2 separate regions of the Homo sapiens genome follow, and region 2 is linked to region 1. Evidence: fine-mapped expression QTL. Tissue or cell type: whole blood. Region 1 holds a variant in brackets; the other region holds the start of a gene. All regions are shown on one strand. Distances are between the middles of the regions.

What was found. PIP is the estimated chance that this variant, and not a neighbour inherited with it, causes the effect.
Region 2: CCDC141 starts here. The variant in region 1 is fine-mapped to the expression of CCDC141 in whole blood (TOPMed, PIP above 0.99). The same link has a PIP of 0.9 or more in blood mononuclear cells.

The regions. Positions count from the first base shown.
Region 1 is chr2:178,831,839-178,836,991 of GRCh38, reverse strand. CCDC141 (coiled-coil domain containing 141) reads left to right here. Exons shown (of 24, transcript NM_173648.4): 23 at 1-98; 24 at 2,552-5,153. The coding sequence ends at 2,819. Among named protein-coding and RNA genes, the nearest start is that of TTN, 27 kb to the right of the region's middle. The variant C/T (reference allele first, on the strand shown) is at 2,774.
Region 2 is chr2:179,047,894-179,053,046 of GRCh38, reverse strand. CCDC141 (coiled-coil domain containing 141) reads left to right here and starts at 2,910. Exons shown (of 24, transcript NM_173648.4): 1 at 2,910-3,207. The coding sequence starts at 3,106. RefSeq lists enhancers at 2,834-2,913, 2,924-3,173, 3,364-3,413.

The sequences.
Region 1 (5,153 bases):
AATTTCTCCAGGCTCCTGTCTAATGTAACTGTCATGGAAGGTTCTCCAGTGACTTTGGAAGTTGAAGTAACAGGATTTCCAGAGCCTACACTGACATGGTGGGTAGCCTATAATGACAAGCCATAAATGGAAACAAATTCAATCACAGAGAAAAATCATTCTGTGAGCACTAACTGAAAGGTTTAGGGCTAGCTGATTAATATTCTATGACACTGCAACTCTGCATGATTCAATCTCACATCAGACCCCTCTCATTTTAGTAGCAGCATAGTTAATACCTTTAAGAAAAATAAAAGGTAACCATATAAAGTACTAATAATTTAACAAATTTCCAAAGCACTGTAGGTTGGTTGTGCTTGTTTTCTTCTGTGTTTAACATTCCACATTTCTAAAGATTGTGGGTTGAAATTATTTTTTATTGTCTATTTCCATATAAGCATGGCATCTGCTTGCTTTAACTACCTTTATGCAATTGAAAATATAAGAATTTGTTTTTATTTCCCTTTACTCTCATTTACCTCTTTCATCTTTTTCCTCTTTCCAACAGAGTCACACGTGTCATCTTTGTAACATTTTGTTTTACTAGGATTTCTTTTTACAAATTTTTTCAATGTGAGAGGTGGAATATAAATATTTCTGTCACAGTTCCTCCAGGTGACAGGCAATAAACTCATTTTTGAAAGGTAGTATAATAACTGAGCTGTAAACAATATGATTTCACTCTGGAGACATCATTATTTTTTAGCCTCTTTTTTTCAGTAAAAGCAAACTGTAGAATACTGGTTTTGGATCACCTACTATTGGTAACAAAAGCAGTTCTTTCTCAATATGTGGGTTACTTTTAAACATTTAGAAAATTCTCATCCTTAAGTAAATTTATTTCAGGACAAAGTTACAAATCTGCAAAAGCCAGTTTATACTTATAAACTAAGATTAAGTAAAATAGCATTTATTGATCACAATGTTTCAGTAGATATTAAATGATCAGTTTCAGTTATTGTGTGTGCCCATTGATGGTACTTGAAATATGAACCAGTTATCTAAGGAACTTATGAGAAAACTTTGGTTTCTCAAATTATTTAAAAAACTGCACTTGTGCTATATTAGTGCAGTCACTTTTGCTTTTTGTTTTATTGTCTTTACTGTTGCATGTTTTTTACAAATCAAGAGTGTCATATTTATGAATTTTAAAGATATTTAATTCATTATTAAATCTCAGTTCACTCCAAAGAAAAATGTTGTCAGATGTGTTTCTTGTTTTTGTCCACACAGTAAATATTAATAATTTGGTTAGTATGTGTGTGGTTAAAGAAGCACTGCTACATACGTGTCGTTGAAGAATATTGCAATGTTGTAAACAAATGTTTTGTCGTCAGATTTACAACTGTGCTCAATTAATAACTGACAAGCTTTCAGGATATCATACATTCTTAGGATACCCAAGAAAAGGCAAAGTTATCACTTAGGCAATGGGAACAGAAAACGATTCACATTTGTCATCACCCCTGAGTGATAGATTGTGGGTAGAAATAAATAAACAAGAATCTCAGACATACAAAATAAAATTATTTCTTTATAAAACCATGCAGTTAAGCACTCATGTTCATAGGAACCTTCTAGAAATATGTTATTAATAGTCATAATACAGTTGCATAAATACCTTTTATAATTAGAAGTCATTTTCTTCTAATGAAATTGCTTCAAAAAAATTAAATGAAGTGATCTCATCAGGAGGTGATATTAAGTACAGTCCTCTAAAACAGCACATCTGTATTGTCCTGTGGATACTGTGGTATGAATATGATGGGGTAGATGAGTCTCACTCCCATGCAGTTTATAAGGAGTCACAGCTGCTGTTCCAGAGTGGCAAAAAGAATAAAGCTGGACAACATGAGGGTGCCATTTCACACCCTAGGTAATTGTTACTATGAGCAAATGGTGGCCTAGTGTGACCAAATGGTCTGCTTTGTTTTTGTTTTTGTTTTTAGGGGTAGCTGGATATCTGAATTTTCATATGCAATATTCCAATTTTTAAAGGATTTCAAAAAATTCAGTTTTCCAAAAACATTGTCTGAGCCAGTCAAAGCAATTCTCTCGCCACCAGTTGCCAACTTCTGCTTGAAAGATAAACAGCGCATAATACCAGCTACTCAGGAGGCTGAGGCAGGCAGATTGCTTGAAACCAGGAGTTCAAGACCAGCCTGGGTAACATAGCGAGATCCTATCTCTTAAAAAAAATAAAAAATAAAAAACTTAGCCTGCACATGGTGGTAAGCGCCTGTAGTCCCAGCTACTTGAGAGCCTGAGGTGGGAGGATTGCTTGATCCCAGGAGTTTGAGACCGCAATGATCTCTGATTCTGCTACTGCAATCTAGCCTACTAAAGAAAAAAAGATAAAGAGCCCCACTGGAATTTGTTGTGGCTACAAGGTTCCTACTAATCCTAAGAGAATATTGCAGTGGTAATGGGCCTATTTGCAAGCATTATTAGAACTTGGAAATAATGTGAATAAACAGCAATCCTGACTTTAAAAACTGCCTCTCTGCTTCAGGTACAAGAAGGGCCAGAAATTGTCTGCAGATGGGCACTTACAGGTTTTACACAAGGAGACAAGGCATTCGGTGTTCATTCCAAAGGTATGCAAGGCAGACGCAGGCCTCTATGTGGCTCGGGCCCAAAACTCTAGCGGCGCTCTCTCTTCCAATGTCATCCTCCACGTGACAGGTAACTGCAGGCTGCCAATCACAAGAGTAAACTGGATAACCCTGTGTGT[C/T]GTCTATGTTAGTGTGTCCCTAATGTACTGGCTCCTCACACAATAACTGTGGTGTTGGCACCAATGGACATCATTCTCATGTGCCTAAAGAAAAGTGCCGCCGTTTATCTTCCTGCACCTCCTGCAAAGCATCTCCCACCAAGTGTATCTCCAGTCTGATCACCATACTTGTTTGGCTAATACCACTGCTAGGTGAAATAATCAAATTTTCTGGAGCGTTTAATATATTTGAGAAGCTTGGTAAATTATCTGTAGTGGATAAGAACAGATTTTTGTACTCTAGAAACAGATGTTTTCAACATAATATGCAGCAAAATTATTCTATGCCTATTCCCTCCTAATTTAAGGGCGTGCAGATGAAGGCTGACATCGGCATAGAAATGTGCTAAATTTCAAATATGGTTGTTCAATAATATATTTTTAATTGTATTTTAAAACATCCCTTTGTAGGGAATATCAGTAGAACTATTGAATTGATGTTGTATTTTTGCATTAGCTGTCCTTTAATTTTGCTTTCCATGTCTTGATCTTGTTACCGAAATGCATTCTGTGTAATTTCAACGTAGACTACGTTCCTGAGTCTGATGATGTCATTGTAAATAATCATTCCTCATGTTGCTCTCACGGGTTTGACATTGGAGGATAGATGTGCCATCAACTTTAAATAGAGTTTCCATCTTTTGTCAGCTCTGCATGTCATACAGCAAGATGGAACACAGGTTGCAAGAAAGAACCAACGTTATTCCTGACATTCTATTGATGTGTTTTGAGCAGCAATGTGTAACCAGGTGTTTCTGCTTCTAATCTTGATTCTGCTGATGACCATTTTTATACTTTATGGCAAAGCCTCATTGCCTCAGTTTCCTGTCTGGAAAATGAGTTCATCATCTACCTCTTGGGCAATTGAGAGTTTTCATTTTGTGTCTTTTAAACATCTGGAAAATGGAAAACACTGAGGGCTAAGGATAATGATATTGTTTAATGTAATTTGTCATCAGACCGGCCTCCTGCTCACTATTTCTTTTTTTTTAGATGCTGTTTTTTTAGAATATTAAATTAAAGGAGTGCTGTTAATATGTAATCTTCAACTAGTTCCATGGAGGAAAGTGATGTTTTATGAATTAGAGCTTAAATTCCTATCTAATTTCTGAAGACTGCATTCTTTTCAAAGACTTGAAATTAAACTCAGGAGGATACATTTTGTTTGTTCTAGGGGGAAACGTAATAGAATGGTATGAGATGAATTCTATCCTTTTACAATAATTATTACTATAATATTGAAGTATTCTATGCCTTTCTGAAACACTTTATTCAGAAAAGATCATTTTTTGGCTTCCTTTTAAAAATAAGCTTGAAGTAGGGAAGCATTTGCTTCTTAGATTTTAAATGTAGTCTTATTATGCTGAGGAAAATCTTTAGTTGAAAGAATAATTCATTACAGATTTTTGATGAAGGGAAGAAATTAATTATGTTGCTGGAAGACTGTCTACAAATAATCAAAATATTTAAATGTAATGTATTCAAGTTGTTATTAAAAAGTTACTGAATGTTATCTGAAGATGTGAAATGTGTAGTCAAGTAAAAAGTTGGCGTATACTTTCTTGGGCTGCATATCCAATTTAATTAAAAAATTAAATCTCAGTTTCCTTCTAAATTTTGATAGAACTATATTAAAAGCTTGTATACACAGCATTCTAGGAAATTTCTCTTAACTATCTTTTTTTTGTTTTTTTTGTTTTTTTTTTTTTTTTTTGAGAAAGAGTCTTGCTCTCTTGCCCAGTGCAGTGGTGCCATCTTGGCTCACTGCAACCTCCACCTCCGGGTTCAAGCAATTCTCCTGCTTCAGCCTCCTGAGTAGCTAGGATTACAGGCATGCCTACCTAATATTTACATTTTTAGTAGAAACCAGGTTTCACCATGTTGGCCAGGCTGGGCCTCAGCCTCCCAAAGTGCCAGGATTACAGGTATGAGCCACCATAGCCGGCCTCTTGTATCCTTTTTGTCCAATTTCAAATAATGTGTGAATCTTGCCTAACTGCTGTTGCCCACGTTGAAGCTAAAGAGTAAAAACCTATTCATGAACAAAGAAGGCAGGTGAGACCCGGTAACAAACTGTCTCTCTTCCCACTTTCTCTTTCTTATTAATTTGGCAGGATCTCCCTTCCCATTTTGTCAACATGGTTGAATTTGTGTGTTGGGGTTGTTAGGGCATGGGAATTCCTGGTTTGCTTTCTCTATTGCATGCTTGTTCATGTTAACTCTTTGGGGAGCAGAATGAGATACATATGCATCCATGGTTATGATGGAAAAAAGCATGCAAAATCCATTTTTAGAGAGAGAGAGAAAGAGAAAGGTGGGGGTGGGGGAGCACAAAGATCAG
Region 2 (5,153 bases), 220 kb before region 1:
ATGCCCCAAGTCAGGAAACTAAAATACCTCTTGGTCTATGTAGACACTTTCACTTGATAGGAAGATACCTTTCCCACAGGGTCTAAGAAGGCCACCACGGTCATTTCTTCCCTTCTGTCAGACACAATTACTCGGTTTGGCCTTCCCACCTCTACGCAGTCCGATAGTAGACTGGCCTTTATTAGTCAAATCAGCCAAGCAGTTTTTCAGGCTCTTGGTATTCAGTGAAACTTTTATATCCCTTACAGTCCTCAGTCTTCAGGAAAAGTAGAACGGACTAATGGTCTTTTAAAAACACACTTCACTAAGCTCAGCCACCAACTTAAAAAGGACTGGACAATACTTTTACCTCTTTCTTTTCTCAGAATTCAGGCCTGTCCTCGGAATGCTACAAGGTACAGCCCATTTGAGCTCCTGTGTGGACGCTCCTTTTTATTTAGCCCCAGTCTCATTCCAGACACCAGACCAACTTAGATTTTGCCCCCAAAATCTTGTCATCCCTACTATCTTCTGTCTAGTCATACTCCTATTCACCATTCTCAACTACTTATACATGCTCTGCTCTTGTTTACACTGCTGGTTTACATTGTTTCTCCAAGCCATCACAGCTGATATCTCCTGGTGCTATCCCCAAACTGCCACTCTTAACTCTTGAAGTAAATAAATAATCTTTGCCGGCAGGACTATGCTGAATCTCCTTAGGCACTCTCTAATCAGATGTCCTAGGTCCTCCCAATTCTTAGACCTTTAATACCTGTTTTTCTCCCTCTCTTATTCCATTTAGTTTCTCAATTCATATAAAACTGTATCCAGGCCATCACCAATAATTCTAAATGACAAATGTTTCTTCTAACAGTCCCATAATGTCACCCCTTACCACAAAGTCTTCCTTCAGCTTAATCCCTCCCACTCTAAGTTCTCATGACGCCCCTAATCCCGCTCGAAGCAGCCCTGAGAAACATCCCCCATCATCTCTCCATACCATCCCCCAAAATTTTCACCGTCCCAACACTTTACCACTATTTCGTTTTATTTTTCTTATTAATATAAGAAAGGAATGTCAGGCCTCTGAGCCCAAGCTAAGCCATCATATCCCCTGTGACCTGTGTACACATCCAGATGGCCAGTTCCTGCCTTAACTGATGACATTCCACCACAAAAGAAATGAAAATAGCCTGTTCCTGCCTTAACTGATGGCATTATCTTGTGAAATTCCTTCTCCTGGCTCATCCTGGCTCAAAAGCTCCCCTACTGAGCACCTTGTGACCCCCCCACTCCTGCCTGCCAGAGAACAACCCCCCTTTTTCCTTTACTTACCCAAATCCCATAAAACGGCCCCACCCCTATCTCCTTTCGCTGACTCTCTTCTCAGACTCAGCCCACCTGCACCCAGGTGAAATAAACAGCTTTATTGCTCACACAAAGCCTGTTTGGTGGTCTCTTCACACAGATGCAAGTGAAAGAAGGAGCCTGCCTGCAACCTTCCAGGTCAGTTACCTCTTTGCAAGCTCTCCAGCCCTGCCATAAAATGAAACCATTTGCAATAGTTGCTACATCATAGCTTGCTCGGCATCTGCTTTCCTGAGCTCGCTCCAATTGTTCCCTTCATGGGGTCAGGTGAAGTTCGTGTTGCATAGGGACTAGGATCTAGGTATGGTTTCCATCTCACTGGGGCAGCAGGCAGATGCTGAGCGCAGAGGACATGGGTGGTGGCTACACAGCTGCAGAGCAGCCATGACATGCTCTTGGAAACAAAAATAATTGAACACTGAAGTATGTGTAAAAGTACTTTTCCCCTTTGAATCAAGAATATGATCATGAACCTTAGCAAAACAAAGCAATGGAGCTGACTCAGTCTTCTAAACATTGGCCCTGAACCTGAACCTACTATTAAATTGGGCTAAAAGGTTTACAGAGCAAGTGGATTCATTAAAACTGTTTTTTGCTATATTCTCTGTTGTGGCTTTGTCCCAGAGATTTCCAATGCTTCCAGCAGCTTTGGAGTTAGTAACTCTGATATGTTTGCATCTGACTTCTGACCTAAACTTTAGTGTTATTTTCAGCTGTTCTTTGACAGGGAATCCAACAGCTGCTGTTTAATACCACAGACAACTTGTGACACAGGCTGAGTTTCTAGCAATAGGATTAATCTACCAATGTGGGGCACTGATTTGAAGCTGGCTATAATTTTCCTGAACAGGAGGTGGGGGTAGGGAATAAAAAGCCTGAAGCACAGTACTTTCCTTTTTGTTTTTGTTTTTAATTGCAGCAAAATATATGTCTTAATAACTTTTAACCACACAGAAAACATTTTCTTGCTGCAATTAAAAGGTAACAGCAAAGTATTTTGCTTTCTCATGGTATTAATAACTGAACTTGAAAACCTTGTCCAATGGAGCAGAATAGTCACAAAGAAAATCTGAAATGATAGGCACCTATTTATAAATGCTGGTTGAAATATTTTTTAAAAATTCCTAAGAAATCTGAGGCTCTGAGAAAATGTGGCTATTCCATCTAAACTTCATTTAGCAAAGAACAGTAAGTTTTAGAAAAGCAGATTAATCTAAAAATGTGTTTTAAGCAATTTGTGACTTAACCCCAAGACAAATACCAAAACTTTTTTAAAGTACACTTTGGTAGTTCTCTTTGCATCAGAGAGATTTCAAAAATCTTGAAAAGATTGATAACCAGGTCAAAGACTTACTTGTTTCAAAGTCCATGGTTACAATGGCATAGTTTCGGTGGCAAAACTAATTTGGGTTGTCAGGATGTAATTTTTTTTTCCATTTGTTATCAAACATCAGCTGATAAGGAAAGAGCTTGAAGCTGTCCTCCACATTTAAGATAACAGCAAAAATAACAGGCACTTAGTGTCACCATACTAGGGGCGTGGCAATTCTCTCTCGTTCGCTCCTTTCTCTCTCACGATAAACTCAATGGGGTTGTCTATTTTTAACCTCCTGTTCTTTCCTTTTGGCAGAGTAATCAGTGTGAGCTGAGCTCTTTCCCTGAATGAATCCAAGTAACCCTGGCCTTCTGAAATGACCAGCAGACACACAACTGTCCAGAGGCTGCCCAAAGTATAAACTCTGGTTCTAAAGTACCATGTCCAGCCAAGGAAGTCCTAGTGTTGCGCTTTCTACGACGACAGTCAGTTCAGTTGCTGTGCAGGCTGGGGACTCCAAAATCGTTATAGCTGTCATAAAGGTAAGCTAACAACTTCCTTTTTTCTGTGCGGCTGTGGGCTTCTAGCTGTGTGTTGAAAACCCTAAAGAACATTCCATGCAATCGGCAGGACACAGCATAGAGAAGACAACGCAGCAAGCACTCTTACTGCTTTCTAAAATGGGCTACTAAGAGAAACCTCTACAAGTTTCAGCAGTTACCAGAGATTCTCTTTCCTTTCAGTCAGCCAGAAAGCATCTATAGCAGCTTGATTTAAAAAAAAAAAAAAAAAGAAAAGAAAGAAAAATAAAGAAAAGAAAACCTCTAGCATATACTGTCAATTTGGTCTTTAAAAGCAAGGCATTGGTAACTGGAAGTTCATGATTGCCTGACTAAAGAGTCCAATGGACCTGTGGAATGCTTGTGATTTTTGAGAGTGGATGTGATGGAGGTGGGAGGAGGCAGGTCCCGACAGACAGGGGGAGGGCACTGCTTTAAGCACGATGGAACTCAGAAAACACCAAGTAAAGGGCTCCGACATGTGCCCTTTGCCACACTGGTTTTGACATGGTAAAGAAACTACTAAATCCTTGTCCAGTAACGAAGACCATGCAAGGAAAGGTACAAAAGCTTTGTGTCAAATTTGCTCTTAACAGCAGGAAGTAGAAGCCACTTAGGGTTTACAATTACTGCATGTTTTATGACAACCCATTTGCCCATTTGCAAAGATGACCACACATCTTTAGGCTGAAGAAGAACTCCATGATTTTATTCTCCATGGAAATGCCCTGTAAAAAAAAGCTTTCAAGCACTAGGCTTGGGCTTTAGATGATATTCCACCTAAATAATTCAGTGTTTAATGAAGGGAAAGCTGGCAAACAAGCTGATGGTCACAAACCAGTTACTTTCAGGTCCCCACCAGGTTTAATTGAATGACTTTTCTGGCCTTTTGTTAGAGCATGGACAGCAAGCCATGTTTACTTTAACTTAATTGCTGTGAATTTTATGGTAATGTGAAAATTCATACCAGGAAAAGAGCACTTGATACTGAGCAAAACAGTTCACTATAGAAGGACAGAATGGAAAGTATTCCTGCCGAGGTGGATTTTCTGGTGTTGTGAGACTTCTCTCCCACAGGAACCAGGCCTCTGCTGACTTCCTCACCCTCCCATCTTTTCAGAGTCCCAGAGAGGAGATGAAAAGAAGCCTGATGCAGAAGTAGGGCAAACAGATCATTTGCACGGGATTAATGATACTTTGAGTTAACTGCAGATTTCAGCAATGAGGGAAAAGAGGCAAACTCACTATTTTTCAAAAAGTTAACTTTCCATTTCCTCAAATATGAACATTCTTGGAGCAGGATGAGGAATAATATTAGAGGATAAATTACAGAAGAATCAGAGGTAGATTGAACACAAAAAAATTACACTGGAAATTACACTGGAAAATTACACTGGAAACTCTTATTTTAACTGAATTGTGTTTCTAAGAATGTTCCCCCACTACCCTCTCCTCAGCCCTCTTACCTTACTGCCATCTCCATACAAAATACACCCCAAGCAATTCAGAGTATAAAGTCCACCTTAATGGAATGGAAGTGCCTGTGTGTGATTTATAGTGACTGTCCAAACTGTCTCAGGGGACTGAATATATTCTAAAATAGAAATACATTTTTCTAATTTCTCTTTAGTAATTCAGGTATCTACATGCGTATGCGTGTTAGTGGTTCATTTTGCTTAATGAGTTGTTGCTTCTTAGAAAAGCAATTCCTCAGGAAATGCAATGACAAATTATATCTTAGAGCAGTGTAAATCTTGTGTGGAAAGCAAGTTGACTGTGCTCAAATGGCAGTTGTCACAGGCATCTAATTTTGTTAATATTTTCCTACACGCTTTAATGAATATTCAACAACTAAGGTTGGAAAACAGCATATTTTACCTTTGAAATAAGATAAAAATCAATTTCTTCATCTGATATTTATTATTTTC